Linked DNA regions of Homo sapiens: region 2 is linked to region 1. A link means that fine-mapping ties the variant in region 1 to the expression of a gene that starts in the linked region. Tissue or cell type: esophagus muscle. Region 1 holds a variant in brackets; the other region holds the start of a gene. All regions are shown on one strand. Distances are from middle to middle.

Evidence for each region. PIP is the estimated chance that this variant, and not a neighbour inherited with it, causes the effect.
Region 2: it holds the start of PDHA1, and the variant in region 1 is fine-mapped to the expression of PDHA1 in esophagus muscle (GTEx, PIP above 0.99).

What each region holds. Positions count from the first base shown.
Region 1 is chrX:19,435,481-19,443,662 of GRCh38, reverse strand. All of the region lies in intron 6 of MAP3K15 (mitogen-activated protein kinase kinase kinase 15), which reads left to right. Among named protein-coding and RNA genes, the nearest start is that of MAP3K15, 76 kb to the left of the region's middle. The variant G/C (reference allele first, on the strand shown) is at 3,309.
Region 2 is chrX:19,340,636-19,348,817 of GRCh38, reverse strand. It overlaps PDHA1 (pyruvate dehydrogenase E1 subunit alpha 1), which reads right to left and starts at 4,891. Exons shown (of 11, transcript NM_000284.4): 1 at 4,724-4,891. The coding sequence starts at 4,780.

The DNA.
Region 1 (8,182 bases):
AGAATACTCGTTCCCTCATTGCTTACCTGACTGAAGCTGATGATCCTTCAGGGTCTAGTTTCAGTGTCTCTTTCTGAGAAAAGCTGATGTTGCAAAGAATACCAAGTCTGGAAAGGATGTTCCTATTGTTACTCATTCTCATAGCGCTTGCTATTTCCCTTTATAGCACTCCATTTCTGTGTTTACTTGCTTAATACCTATCATCCCTCCTGCTGTACTATAAGCCTGAGGGGGCAGGGGCCATGGTGTATACTAGGCCGTGATATAGCCAGTGCCTAGTAACATTGTGCCACCCACAGAGTAGGCACTCAGTAAAGATTTGTTGAATGGGGTTGGGCGCAGTGGCTCATGCCTGTCATCCCAGCACTTTGGGAGGTCGAGGCAGGCAGATCACTTGAGGTCAGGAGTTTGAGACCAGCCTGGTCTACATGGTAAAACCCCGTTTCTACTAAAAATACAAAAATGAGCCAGGCATGGTGGCACATACCTGTAATCCCAGCTACTCAGAAGGCTGAGGCATGAGAATCACTTGAACCCGGGAGGCGGAAGTTGCAGTGAGCTGAGATTGTGCCACTGCAGTCCAGTCTGGGCGACAGAGCGAGACTCCATCTCAAAAAAAAAAAAAAAAAAAAAAAAAAAAGCCGGGCATGGTGGCTCATGCCTGTCATCCCAGCACTTTGGGAGGTCGAGGCAGGTGGATCACTTGAGGTCAGGAGTTTGAGACCAGCCTGGCCAACATGGTGAAACCCCGTCTCTACTAAAAATATAAAAAATTACCCAGGTGTGGTGGTGCGCACCTGTAATCCCAGGTACTCGGGAGGCTGAGGCAGGAGAATCAACTGAACCCGGGAAGTGGAGATTGCAGTGAGCCGAGATTGTGTCACTGCACTCCAGCCTGGGCAACAGAGTCAGAGTCCATCTCAAAATAATAATAATAATAATAATGATAATAATAATAATAATAATAAAATAAAAGCCAGGCATGGTAATACATGCCTGTAGTCCCAGCTACTTGGGAGGCTGAGGCAGGAGAATCACTTGAACCCAGGAGGCAGAGGTTGCAGTGAGTCGAGATCGCACCACTGTACTCCAATCTGGGCGACAGAGTGAGACTCTGCCTCAAAAAAAAAAAAAAAAATTGTTGAATGGGTAAGTGAATGAAGAAGTGACTAATGATCAACTGTGGTATAGTATTAGAAGAGAGCCACATAATGAGTGTCTGGGTGCTACAGTTAATTTAAAGTTTGGTAGTAGAAAGTAAACGTATTGTATTTTCTTTATTTATATGTGAGTCTGTGCTTAAAAACAAAAACATCCAAGTCAGACATACTCATTGTATACAGAAAAATATAAAAACATAATTACCGTTGATACCACTACCCAAAGATAACCATTGAAGTAGGGTGTGGCCCAAAGCAGGGAATGCAGAAAAGTAGAGGAGTCCACATGGGCTAGGTCAGGGTCAGTGGTGATGGAAGTCTTCCTAGCGTGAGAATCCCTGGTGTCTGCTAAAAAAGGGATTTGATAAAAACTCAGAGGGGAACAGATCTTCCTGACCGAGGGAACCCCTGCCGCCTCGGTGGTGTTGACTTGTGTATTAGGCTAGTGTAACTGTTGTAACAGACAGCCCCACAATTTCAGTGACTTCACATGATGGAAGTTTCTTTTCACTCATGCACTATTCCAATGTGGATGTATCCTGGCTGGGCAGTCTCTTCTTCAGGTGATTTCTTGGTGAACTCAGTCTCCTTACATCTTGAGGCTCTGCCCTCTCCTGGATCCTCAGATCTCCTTTCAGCCAGATGATAGGAAAAGAGCATGGTGACTTGTTAGAGAGGTTTTGTATCTGTGTTTGGAACAGCTTTGCTGAGATGTAATTCTCATACCATACAATTAACCCATTTTGGCTGGATGCATTGGCTCACACCTGTAATCCCAGCACTTTGCGGGGCCAAGGCAGGCGGATGGCTTGAGTTCAGGAGTTCGAGACTAGCTTGGGCAACATGGCAAAACCCTGTCTTTACAAAAAAATACAAAAAAATTAACCAGGCATTATGGTGCATGCCTATATTCCCAGCTACTCGGGATGGCTTGAGCCCTGGAGTCGGAGGATGCAGTGAGATCGTGCCACTGCACTCCAGCCTGGACGACGGACCCAAACCCTGTCTCAAAGACCCAAAAAACAACCCATTTAAAGTGTACAAGTCGGTGGGTTTTTTTAGCATATTCGGAGTTGTACAACCATCACTACGATCAGTTTTAGAATGTTTTCATCATCCTCCCCCCGCCACCAAAAGCCCATACCCATTACCACTTAACCCCACTTCCCAGCTTCCCTCAATTCTTCCCCCCCTATTCCTAAGCAATCACTGATCCATTTTGGCAACCTGTTAATGGGTACCCCCTCTTCTTCCGCCTCACTCTCTAGCCTGAGGAAAACACTAGTCTCTTTTCTGTCTCTATGGCTTTGCCTGTTCTGGCCATTTCATATAAATGGAATCATACAATATGTGTTTTGTGTGTGTCTGGCTTCCTTAGCATACTGTCTTCAAGGTTCATCCATGTGGTATCATGTGTCAGGACTTCATTCCTTTTTTTGGCTTAATATTCCATTGTACAGATAGGCCACACTTTATTAATTCATCAGTTGATGGGCATTTGAGTTGTTTGCACTTTTGACTGTACTAGAGAGGGTTGTAGGAGCCTGCTCAGGAAGTGATGTTCATTACTTCTTTCCATGTTTCATCGGCCACAAGTCAGTCTCGTGTCCTAATCTCACTTCAAGGGAACTTGGGAAATGTGGTCTGGCTGAGTGCCCAGGAAAAAAAGAAATGGGGCTTGGTGATGCTGCTACAACTTGCAAATAAGGAGTAGAGTTTAACTGGATCTATCAGCGTGGAGATTCCTGGTGACATGTCACAGAGCAGGACAGAGAGTTCAGGCAAGGCCACTCTTCAGCTCCTGCTGCCTTTGTGTGAATGGGAAAGCCAGCCTGGGAAATGCCCAGCCCCATCAGAGGGCCTATCAGCCCACTGTAGACCCTGGCCTTCACAGGTGGTGCTTTGCCATCCCAGGAGACTGGGAAAGGTTGGGATGATGGCAGCTAGGGTGGATGATTTCATGGTGATTGTGCCTGATACATAACTGGGTCCTATTTGTAGAGTAGAAAAACAACTATTCGGATCTGTACGTTTATTTGACTCTGAACATTGTTCACACTAAGACACAGGTCGCTTCTAGTTGTTCCCTTCCATGTATGTAAATACGAGGCATCTGGCCAGAGCAGGGCACCTGCTTTCTTGTGGTAG[G/C]TGTGTATTTGTCAGGGTCCAATCGGGAAACAAAGACCACTCTAAGTATTTAAAATAGAAGAAACTTAATGTAGGAAATTGGTTACACAGGTGATAGAAGAGCTGACAAACCAATCGGAAATGATGAGGCAGCCCTGAAGTTAGCATCAGCAGGAAGCTGCTGTCACCCGCTTGGCTGGAGGGACCCAGGGAAGAGGTGATGTTACCAGAGCCCAGGTGCCAGGATCACCTGGAACAATCGTGAGCCAGCCTGGTGGGAGCTGGGTCTAACAAAGAGATGTGGCTATTGCTGGAGTGGCCATGCACACCAAGAAAAAGTGGGAGAAGAAACTGCGCTGGCTTCTTCCATCCCATCCTCCAGGGCCTCACCCTCTGCCCCCAGTGCCTCCCACCGGTTGCTGTCAGCTGAGCACAGCAGCCTAGAGGAGTCAGCTCCCCTGTAACACAAAGCAGGGCTGCAGAAAGGCCAAGAATGCATTTGAGGGCAGACCCCAGTGATTGCCCCAGTAGGACACTATTCAGAATTACTGCTCAGTTTCTAGTATTTTTAAAGTCAGCTTTAATAAGGTGTAACTTACATACCATAGGCCGGGCACTGTGACTCATGCCTGTAATCCTAGTACTTTGGCAGGCCGAGGTGGGAGGATCACTTGAGGCCAGGAGTTTGAGACCAGCCTGGACAACACAGTGAGACTCTGTCTATAAAATAAAAATGAAAAAATTATCTTGCCTTGGTGGTGTACGCCTATAGTCCCAGCTACTCAGGAGGCTGAGATGGGAGGATTGCTTGAGGCTGGGAGTTGAAGGCTGTGGTTGAGCTATGACCATGCCACAGTATTCCAACCTGGGTGACAGTGAGATCCTGTCTCAAAAAACCACCATACAATAAACTAAAATTTTAAGTGCACGATTTGATGAGTTTGGCCAAATAAACACACCCATGAAACTACCACCACAATCAAGATATAGAATATTATATCCCTGTGTTAGGCCGTTCTCATATTGCTATAAAGAAATACCAGAGACTGGGTGATTTATAAAGAAAACAGGTTTAATTGGCTCACAGTTCTGCAGACTGTACAAGCATGGCATTGGTGTCTGCTCAGCTTCTGGGGAGGTCTCAGGCAGGTTTTATTCATGGCAGAAGGTGAAGGCGGAGCAGGCAGCTCATATGGTGAGAGGGAGAGTGAGGGCCGGTGGCACGACCTCTACTCACTGCAACCTTCACCTTCTGGGTTTGAGCAATTCTCCTGCCTCAGACTCCCGACTGGCTAGGATTACAGGCACCTACCACCACACCTGGCTAATTTTTGTATTTTTGTAGAGACAGGGTTTCACCATGTTGGCCAGACTGGTCTCAAACTCCTGACCTCAAGTGATCTGCCCGTCTCGGCCTCCCAAAGTGCTGGGATTACAGGCATGAGCCACTGTGCCCGGACTCAGTGTGATTTTTACATTTGTTGGGGTTTTTATTGTCACTACAGGAGTGAAGACCTTTCACATTCTTCTACATCTTAATTGGAAGCAGAAGTCTCTTGTAAGGTTTTTGACAGGTGACCCAACACAAAGTTTATTCTAGAAAGGACACTGGTCTAATGAGACCTTTTGTGTGTTAAAGCTCAGGGCTGGCTTAGAAGGAGGATTTATTGGGATTCTATTTGTCTCTTGCCCTATGAATTTCCTCTTACAGACACACAGTATAGAAAAGAGGGCCAGGGAGACAGGATGGTTGATGGCAAGTCAGTGCTCTGGCACACCCATAGCTCATGGCAATGCTTTGAGGTAAGCAAAGTCAGACACTTCAGGTGAAGGACTGAGGCACAGAAGGGCTAAGTGCCCTCCTCAAAATTCAATTGGGTAATAAATGGTGTGAAAATAGCCAGGATCTAGCTCTATATGATTCCCAATCCAGTGTTGTGTTTTTATTCTGTGCATTTTTTACATAAGTAATAGATGTGTTGGCTCATGCCTGCAGTCTCAGCACTTTGGGAGGCCAAGGCGAGAGGATCACTTGAGCCTAGGAGTTTGAGATCAGCCTGGGCCACATAGTGAGACCCCATCTCTACCAAATAAATAAATAAAAATAAAAGCTAGGTGTGGTCATGCGTGCCTGTATTCCCAGCACTCTGAGGCAGGAGTTTCACTTGAGCCCAGGAGCTTGAGCCTACAGTGAGCCGTGATCACACCACTCAGTGCATTCCACTTGGGCAACAGAGCAAGACCCTGCCTCAAAAAAACAAAAGTGATAATAGATGAATATGTTTGTATATTACTGTGAAAAACTGAAAAACAATCCATTTAAAGCAGTTATCCCTCTAAACTCTAATCTCTTGTCCCGTCCATATTCCGGAAGTAACCTGTCTTGTCAGTTTGGTGTAATATCCTTGGAGACAATTTTCTATGTACTTTACATACTGTGAAAATATGTCATACTGCAGAGTTTTTAAACTATAGGACCACACAGGAGGTATACTGTTGTTTTTTTCACATAGTAATCGATGCTTAGAGATCTCTCCATGTCACTACAATAACTGCTCAGTTAGTCATTCATTTAACAGACACTTATTGATCACCTACTTTGTGCCAGATCCAGTTCTAAGTACAGTAGTTAACAAATCAGACCCAAAAAGTCTCCACCCTCTCGGAGCTTGCATTCTAAAATGGGGAGATAGAATAAAAAAAACCTAAATGTATTAAAACAGTTTAGGGTGATAGGGTAGCCAGTAAGTAGGATGGGAAGATTGTAATTTTAAGTTGAGTGCTCAGAGAAGACCACACCTATTAGAAAGTGACATGGAGCAAAGATCAGAAAGAGGCAAGGGAACATACCATGTGGTATGTGGGGGAAGATCATTTCAGGTAGAGGGATCAGCATGTGGAACAGCAAGGAAGCTTGTGTAGCTGGAGCATAGTAGGTGATCGGGGCACAGGAGTGGTAAGAGATGAGGTTGGAGAAATAACTAGGACCACATCTTGTAGATCCTTACAGGCCATTGGAAGAAAATTGGTGTTTGCTCTAAGATGGGAGCCACTGGTGAGTTTTGAGTCGAAGGATGACATGACCTGCCTTACAGCGCAGAGGATCACTATGACTTCTGTGTTGAGACTAGATAGTAGAGAGGTAAGTGTGGAAGCAGGAAATGACATGGCTTGGACCAGAGTGGTAAGGGTGGGCTTTATGAGGAGTGGGTCAATTTCAGATGTAGTTTGAAATAAAAGCCAGTGGAATCTCCTGGTCCAATAAATGGTGTTAGAGGAACCAAACATGACTGCAAAGTTTTTGGCCTGAGTAAGAGGAAGAATGGATTGGCCATTTAACAAGAAGAGGAAGACTGTAGAAGAACAGGTTTGATGGGACAATCAAGAGTTTGATTTGGGGCCAGCCATGGTGGTGCACACTTGTAATCCCAGCACTTGAGGAGGCCAAGGTGGGCAGATCACTTGAGGCCAGGAGTTCAAGACCACCCTGGTCATCATGGCTAAACGCTGTTTCTACTAAAAATGCAAAAATTAGCTGGGCCTGGTGGTGCACGCCTGTAATCCCAGCTACTTGGGAGGCTGAGGCATGAGAGTCGCTTCAGCCTGTGAGTTAGAGGTTGCAGTGAGCTGAGAATGCATCACACCATTCCAGCCTGGATGACAGAGTTGAGACTCTGTCTGAGGGGGACAAAAAAAAGTTTGATTTGGGACACGTTAAGTTTGAGGTATCAACATGCAAATGAGTTGCTGAGAGGGCAGTTGGATATGTGAGTCTGGATTTTAGGGGAGAGGCCTAGGCTGGAGATAGAAATTTGGAAGTCATCAAAATATGGATGGTTTGAAAAGTCATGGCAATGGATGATCAAGGGATCTAGGGTAGTTACCAAGAAAGATGAAATGTCCAAGGGTACTGCCAAGGGACACTCCAATGTGAAAAGATCAGAGAGATGGACTAAAGTAGGAGAAAATCGGGCGAGTGTGGTGTCCTGCAAATCAGATGATAAAAGTAGTCCAAGGAGGAAGGGGTGCACGGTTGTCAAATGCACATGTATGTGAAATAGGACAAGGAGTGAGAAGGGAGTGGTGGATTCAGCAATGATGCCAACCCACTGACGCAGAAAGTCCAGCATGAGAAGCACTGATGTCTGGGTCTCCAGAGATTCAGATTTAAGCTCCTAGGTGATTGAATTTTTTTTTTCTTTCTTTCTTTTTTTTTTTTTTGACATGGCGTTTCCCTCTTGTTGCCCAGACTGGAGGACAATGGTGCGATCTCGGTTCACTGCAACCTCCGCCTCCTGGGTTCAAGTGATTCTCCTATCTCAGCCTCCCGAGTAGCTGGGACTGCAGGCACCTGCCACCATGCCCTGCTAATTTTTGTATTTTTAGTGGAGACAGGGTTTCACCATGTTGGCCAGGCTGGTCTCGAACTCCTGACCTCAGGTAATCTGCCCGCCTTGGCCTCCCAAAGTGCTGGGATTACAGGCGTGAGCCACCACGCCCAGCCTCCCAGGTGATTCTAATATGCAGCCAAGATTCAGACCCACTGTCAAAGTTTCCTTCTCTTAATTGTGAAATGGCCTTAATTGCCAGAAACAGATGTTGCTGGCTGATTCAACATAGGAGTTTTTATCTGTAGGCTTGTTCTTGGATACCTTGGGATCTGGAAATGATAAGCAGATCCAAAAGCTGATTATTAACCACTAAAGGGATTAGCTATTTAACACCTGTCTTAAAGTGGCTTTTAAGCTGAAAATCTCTTTGCTTTTAATTTTTTCAAATGTTTGATTTTTGTTTTGTTTATACTCAAAAGACTTTTTGTTTTGAGTAACAAGGGTAAATTTCAAGTTAATGAGAAAATTCAAGGGAAATCTTGATGTAACTGGTCCAAAAAACTA
Region 2 (8,182 bases), 95 kb after region 1:
TGCCCACCACCACGCCCGGCTAATTTTTATATTTTTAGTAGAGATGGGGTTTCACCATGTTGGCCAGGCTGGTCTCCAACTCCTGACCTCAGGTGATCCACCTGCCTTGGCCTCCCAAAGTACTGGGATTGCAGGCATGAGCCACTGCGTCTGGCCTTTTCATGCCATTCTTAGTCATAACCAGATACTGTTCATTTTGAGCAAGCCAAAATTATACTTCAAATAAAACTATGATTTAATCTCCACTCTAGGCAAACTTGACTCTTCTATCAAATTGGATCTGTAAGAAAAAATATTTTAAATTGATTGAAGTATGAGATAAATACTTTAGGGAGACAAGACAAAAGAAAAGATACTTAGCACTCTCTGACTTAAACACAATGGGCTTGAGCCAGCTGTTTTATAATTTATAATTTGAACAGCCTAAATCTTGGACAGGCTCCTCCTGAAGCCCCAGTAGAAATGTTCTCTGAAACACTGTTCTCTTGATGTTTGGGTGGCTGTCACTGTTTGGAGGTAAAAAGCTTGGAGGCGGGGGGTGAGAAATGATTCCTTTCCAGTTTTACAACTGAGCAAACCTGCTCACAGCAAAAGTATTCTATGTAATGGCTAAGGTTTAGGTTAGACCACAAAATTTATCCAGTAGTATTATCATACTATTTTAGCTCCCTTCTGCCACATTCTCACACACTGACGTGTAAACCAACATGATTTCTCCATAAAAAGCACATCTGATGTGTTCATACCTTACCTAATCCAGCACTGGACTGATCTTGGTGAGAAGAGTTAAGACTGATCTGCCAAGTATACCCTGGAGTGTACAAGCCAATAGGCAGAAAGCTAATTACGTATATCTTCACCCCTCAATAGACCATTATTGGACAAAGCCAACAAACACAGACAATGACAGTGCTGGAGGAAAACAACTGAAATACTAGGAATCAGTGTTTCAGTTAACTTACAGGCAGAGACAGTCCACTAATGTATCTCAGAAAAAGTGAAGGAAATTTAGGAATTTGGGAAGAAGTAAAGCTGAGAGAAGGTGAAACAGCAAATCAATGGTTATATTTAGCAATCAAACAGATGTGTTATTCTTGGCAGTTAATAAATATTTTGTGGGGCCAGAAATTTATTGTATTGTGAAATAAATTTCCAAATACAACTACAGAAACTGCAGTTTTTGGAAGGCAGGAGTCCAAACCAGCCAGGCGACAGTAACAGAGAAAAGGTAACTTCTTTCTCAATCCTAGAGTTGAAACAATGAGGCAGGATAATGCTATACAATAAAGAGCAAGAAGGGGCCCAGTGCTGTGGCATGCGCCTGTAATCTTGCGCCTGCAAAGATTAGGACTGCCAGAAAGCTACTTAGATACTTTCTCCCATGGCTTCATTACTGTGTATCTCAAAAATAAGAACCACTGATATGAGTGAAAGGAACAAAGTTAAAGAAGCTAAAAGTCCTATCAGAAGTGTGTGTGTATCATTTCTGAGTGAGAGCTTGTTGAAAAGATAAGTTTACCATTCATTTTCTCTGGAGAGCCATAAAAAGATTCTCTGTTAAATGGGATTCCTCTCTGACAGAGACCACGAACAACCCACTCAAATTTTAAAAAATAAAAACTAGGCCGGGCATGATGGCTCACACCTATAATCCCCAGCACTTTGGGAGGCCAGGGTGGGAGGACCACTTGAAGCCAGGAGTTCAAAGCCAGCCTGGGCAACATGAGACTCTCATCTCTACAAAAATAAATATTAAAAAATTAGTCAGGTATGGTGGCACACACCTGAGGCTACAGTGAGCTATGACTGTGCCACTGCATTCCAGCCTAAAAAAAAAAATTAATTAAAAAAAAGTAAAACTTTAACTTCCTAAATACATAGGAACCATTCATGTGAAAGAGGAAAAACGTTTCAAAAATTCCAGATTCTAACAGTGTAAATTAAAACTCTTACCTACCACTTATAAAGCCAAAACATTGCTAGTAAAGATCTCACAAAAGGAGCCATACAGAAATGCAAACAATAAAATAACATTTTAAATGCATTCAATCTTCTTCCATGAAATAAGAACTATGAAAACTATAAACCTTATTCAAAAATAAAAACACAATCTTGATATTCATTTCAAAGTTTCACACCAAACACTCTTTGATGAGACAATGGCAATCTTTAAGCCTGAGATAAATCTCCCTACCTGCCTGGTTTTAAGAGAGTGAGAGTAATCCCAGCACTTTGGGAGGCCGAGGTGGGAGGACTGCTTGAGCCTGGAGATGGAGACCAGACTGGGCAACGTAGCAAGACCATGTCTCTAGTAAAAAAAAAATTTTTTTAATTGGCTGGGTGTGGTGGTGGCACATGCCTGTGTTCCCAGCTACTCAGGAGGCTAAGGCAGGAGGATCGCTTGAGCCCAGCAGGCTAAGGCTGCAGTGAGCTGTCCTGCTACTGCACTCCAGCCTGGGTGACACAGAGACCCTGTCTCAAACAAAACGAAAGTAAACCAGGGAGAATAAAAAAGGAAAAAACACACAGCGTCTTGGGAGGTTAAGGGGATTATCTTGTGTCACAGCCATCAGACCAGCTGCCTACCCTTCTCCCTCCCCTTCTCCCTCCCTTCATGGAGTATCACACAGATGGTAGGAGTCTAGTGCAGTAAGTCTGCCTAATTTGGGTGAGCCACTGCTTATTGTTTACTGTCAAGATTTTTGTGAAAGGCTTATATGCAAAATGTCTTTTTACATGTATAATATAAAAAACTAAAACGTTGATCTATTTTGTTACTTATAGTTAAGTAAAAAGACATCCATAAGTATGAAGAATTACAAAATACAAAGAGTCAACACGTTAGTTTATTATTCCACCCTTTAAAAAAATAAAAGTGAAACTTTTAGTTCTATCCTTAAAAGCTTCAGGAATGGTTCCTAATTAGTCCATGACAAGTTGAGTGACACAGAAAACTTCTAATTATCTGAAGAGTTTACACCACCAAGTGGAAAGATACCTGGGCACTTTCAAAGGTGACTTCATATCTGGAACTCAATTTTCTTCCTACTGTAAGGTGGCGGGGGGGGGGGGACCCTGCAAACTGATACAGGAAACAATGAACCTGACTTGCAGAAGAAGAAGAAAACCTACATCAGGTGCCTAAAGGAAGGATGTTTCTGAGCCCGTAACTACCGGTACAGCCCTCTACCCACAGATATCCCTAAAGGGAACGCTTTTTTTTTTTTTTTTTTTTTTTTTTTTTTAAAATACGGAGTCTTGCTCTTGTCGCCCAGGCCGTAGTGCAATGGCACGATCTCCGCTCACTGCAAACTCCGCCTCCCGGGTTCAGGCTATTCTCCCGCCTCAGCCTCCCGAGTAGCTGGGATTACAGGAGCCCGCCACCACGACCGGCTAATTTTGTATTTTTAGTAGAGACGGGGTTTCACCATGTTGGCCAGGCTGATCTCGAACTTCTGACCTCAGGTGATCCACCTGCCTCAGCCTCCCAAAATGCTGGGATTACAGGCCTGAGCCACCGCACCCGGCAGTTTTGTCATTATTTTAGGCAACAGGATTCCTAGAGGGGCATACCTCTTACCTTTTGACAATCTCTGCCTGTACTAAGTAGAGCGGTATCAAGTCCTGGGGGAAATACCAGAATCCCGAGGCCTGCAGTTACACCAATTAACACGACCTCACTGTGCCTAGGGGGGTCAGAATGCTAGCTCAGGTGTTAGGCACCTCTAAATGCTGAGGCCATGAAATAGTGCTAAACTCTACCCCCCACCCCTCAAGCATCGTTGCTCTTTGCTTTAGCTACTTGTACCCTAAGAATGTGTAGGTAAGGGGAGGGGAGGGCAGCGTCCTCTGAGTTCTGCTTCGGCGCTCCTGAACTCACTGCCAAGAAAAGCTCAGATGTTGAGGGAGAGGGAAGAGGAGGAAGTTTGTTTCTGAAGAGGCTGACCTTCTGTGAACCCGCCTCAGAACTGAGCACAGGTGTTCAAGAAATGTATACCGAACTGGAGACTCAATAAATAACACTATTCAACACACATGTTATCGATTATGTGCCAGGTGCTATTTGGAATCGTTTCCACACGTGTCACTCGTTGAATCCTCAAGACAACCCCAAGAGGTGGGGACTCTTATTATCTCCATTTTAGAGTTAACTGATAACATTTCAGAGATAACTCTTATCTCCATTTAGAGATTAACTCCACTTCGAGCAAACATTTTAGGAAACCGGGTCCCCGGGACGTTTAAAAACTTGCTCAAGGTCACAGGGCTAGTCAATGGTGAGGGTGCTGTTTGAACGAAGCCACCCTGTCTCCAGATTCTACGCTATTACAAAGCCTCTCGGTCAAGAGAAATTAAGTTAGAAGATCCGAAATGAGTGGGGTCAATTGGAGACTCGAAGGAGGCCGAGGCCACCCTTTCCGTGTCCTGTAACCCAACAGGCACCTCTTGAGCACACCGACTTCGCCTGGCGCACAGCTGGGCCCGGGGGCGGGAGGTGGGTGTCGAGAAGGGGGAAGTTCACACGGACCTTGGCGTGATCCCGGTCCGTGCCGCTTCTCCCGAGGCCAGGAACGGAATGCAGGGCGCGGAGGCGAAGTAAAGGCTCCCCGGCTCCCCTGGCGCCTTCCACCCCGCTCTGGGTGGCCCGGCCTGGCCCGCCCTGCCCTCCGGCCCCGCCTCAGCCCCACTCGCGCCCCATCCCGGCCCGCCCGGGAGGTCTCACCGGCTTCTGAGAAGCGCCAGACAGCACGCGGGAGACGGCGGCGAGCATCTTCCTCATGAAGCACAGGCAGTGGCGGCAGCGGCGACTCCTCACAACCCAGGAGGCACGACGCGGGTGCCCCCAAGTCTCCTTCAGGTGCCCCAGCAGACGCCACGCCTCAGTCGCACCGCGGCGTGACAGAGTCGTAATAACGTCATGCGCTGCGCCGGGCCGCGGGCCAACCAGAACGGCGTCCAGGGGGTGCCCCGCCCCCGCTAAAGGCCTGAGGCTGCCCATTGGGTATCAGCGCCAGAGAGGGAGGGGCTGAGGGCTCTTTCCGACGCCACGCCGCGGGCGGGTGAGGAGGCGGGGCTTGATAGCGCCTGCGTGGGAAGGTGGGGCCCCCGCCTCCAGGGCGCCGCGGGAAAGGAGCCTTCCTAGATTCCGCTCTGCTGACTACCGGGGAGGTTGTGCAGGCCCCGTCCTACCGAGCGCCTACTCCTGCCGGTGCTGCAGCTCTGCAGCCCTCGTTCAGTACATCTCGTTCAGTACACTAGATGATGAAGATTAGCAGCATGCTCAGAGCCAAAAGACAGAACATCTGGTTTCTGTAAATGGTCTGCCACTAACTTTGTCTTTAAAAGATCACGTAGCAGTTGGACAGTTCTGCCCTGTCTACTTGAACGCGGATCAAAAAATTTGTTTCCCAATATATGTCGAGAGGACAATGGGAAAAATCTTTTTTCTCTAGTTATTGGTTCACAGGCTCACTGCGAGTTAACAGCGTGGCTCAGCCGATGATAAAAGCACACACAGAGACAAAACACCAAAGCAACAAGGGGCTCTATTCAGAGGATCAAAGGGCTCAGGAACCCATTGTGTTGTGTCCTAGTGGGATTGCACCTGGGGTTCCGGGTTCAGATTTGGGCTCCACATTTTAAGGGGGATAATGAGTAAACTGAGTGGAATCCAGGGGACAGTGGTCAGAACGGTGAGGGGCTGCGATTGTGACTTATGAAGAACGATTAAAGAAGTTAGGAAGAAAACAGGCTAACTAGAATTGGCTGGGTTATGATGTAACAACTGACCTCCAAATTTCAGTGATTTCAAGAATTTGAAGTGACGCGAGCCATCGTACTCGTAACACAGGTCCCTCACAGCGTGGCACCCTCTCTCTGGAACTTAGCTTGTCTCATGGATGAAGAGAAAAGGGATCATTTAAACCGGCTCTCAAAGCTTCTGCCCAGAAGTGACACATGTCACTTCCTCTCAATTTTCACGGACCAGAGCTAGTTACCCGACCATGTCTGAGTTCCACAAGGTGAAATATAATCCTCCTGCCAGGAGGAGAACAGAAAATTGGATGAACAGTAAAACCAGAGAGGATTGGATATGTCTTCACACATTTTCAGGCCAGTCATGTTCCAGGAGGAAGAGCTATTTTGTGTGTGTGTGTGTGTGTGTGTGAATAAAATCATTTCATTTCAGCATAACAATGAATTTTCTAACAATGACAATGGTCCAATGAGATAATTCTCTCCCAGTGTCACTGAAAGTATTCAAAGCAGAAGTTCAAAGCATGACCAGCTCTCAGCATAGCTAGAGAAATAATTTGGGCACTGGGCCAGACTCTGGACTGAGAGATCGTGTTGCAGTGGAAGAAAACTTCTTAAAGGAGTGAGAGGGCGCCATTAAAAGGCAGAGATGGACGTGAGAAACTTGCATGGTATGATTTCAGCAGCTGCTGCTGCTGATAGAATATGAAAGGTAAAAGAGAATGAAAAGGTTGGAGGCCAGATGTCCAGCTCAGGAGAAAAAGCTGGTCTGAATGGTTTGGGACATGTTGACCTGGTGGTGGCAGTGGCACAGCTATCTGAAGATGTCCCCCGGGAAGTTGGAGTTGTAAGTCTGGAACATTTGCTAAAAATATTAATTTGGGAGTCATCTCCACGGGGTGGTGATATTGGTTGTGCATGTACGGGAACTCTGTAGGCCATATGAATATGAATTCATTCATTCATTTGCTCATTCATCCAACACCTATTATTGAGCACCGATTTTGTGTCAGACACTGTACTACACACTGAAGATATAGCAAGGAACAAGTAAAATATAGGTCCTACTTAAATACATGATTGAACAAATCAATGGGTTAGAAGGAACAACTTTTCCTTACAGTAGAATTCCAATTAATTAATATAGAAGGAATGATGAAAATAGAAAAAGAAAATCACCATTTGGCAAAGACCACAGTAACTGTTGCAGGTGAGAATTATCATCAATACAGGCTAAAATTAGTGGGTAAATGTATGATGAGAAACAGGACATTTGCCTCATCTCAAATGATCTCTCCACTAGATTCATTACAAAGTTTAAAGTAACTTTGCAGTGCAGAAACAAAGTAACCAATTTTTCAATGACTAGGATATTTTCTCTGCACTTCTTGTTCTTCATATATATACATATATATACACACATACGTGTATATATATATATTTTATTTATTTATTTTTTTGAGACAGAGTCTCGCTCTGTCGCCCAGGCTGGAGTGTAGTGGTGCAATTTCAACTCACTGCAAGCTCCGCCTCCCAGGTTCACGCCATTCTCCTGCCTCAGCCTCCCGAGTAGCTGGGACTACAGGTGCCCGCCACCACGCCCGGTTAATTTTTTTTGTATTTTTCGTAGAGACAGGGTTTCACCATGTTAGACAGTATGGTCTTGATCTCCTGACCTCGTGATCCGCCCGTCTCAGCCTCCCAAAGTGCTGGGATTATAGGCATGAGACACTGCGCCCGGCCTCTTTTTTTTTTTTTTTTTTTTGAGACAGATTCTCACTCTGTTGCCCAGGATGGAGTACAGTGGTGACATCTTGGCTCACTGCAACATCTGACTCCCAGGTTCAAGTGATACTCCTCATTCAGCCTCCCGAGTAGCTGGGAAAACGGGCGAGCACCACCATGCCCGACTAATTTTGTATTTTTTTAGTAGAGACGGGGTTTCACCATGTTGGCCAGGCTGGTCTCAAACTCCTGACCTCAGGTGATCTGCCCACCTTGGCCTCCCAAAGTGCTGGGATTACAGGTGTGAGCCACCGCGCCCAGCTGTTTTCAGATATTTGAAAGCAGAGTTGGAAGCAACTTTGAAGGTGAGGGACACTGTGAGATGCTGTGTCAAGTGGTGACAGGTGATGATTGTGGTTAATAGTCATTAACTATAGGCTATAGTAACGTTATAGTAATGTTATAGTCATTAACTATAGGCTATAATAACTATAGGCTATAGTAACGCGCTAGAACATTCACAAAAGACTCTTGTATCAGGAGAGGAGGCCGGAGAGAAAGAAAGATTTGCAAAAGGCGGGAAGAGAAAGTCTTAAGAAAGGAGGGCTCGTTAATCTTGGGGGAAATTGTAATCCCAGCACTTTGGGAGACCAAGGCAGGAGGATCACTTGAGGCCAGGAGTTTGAGGCCAGCCTGGGCC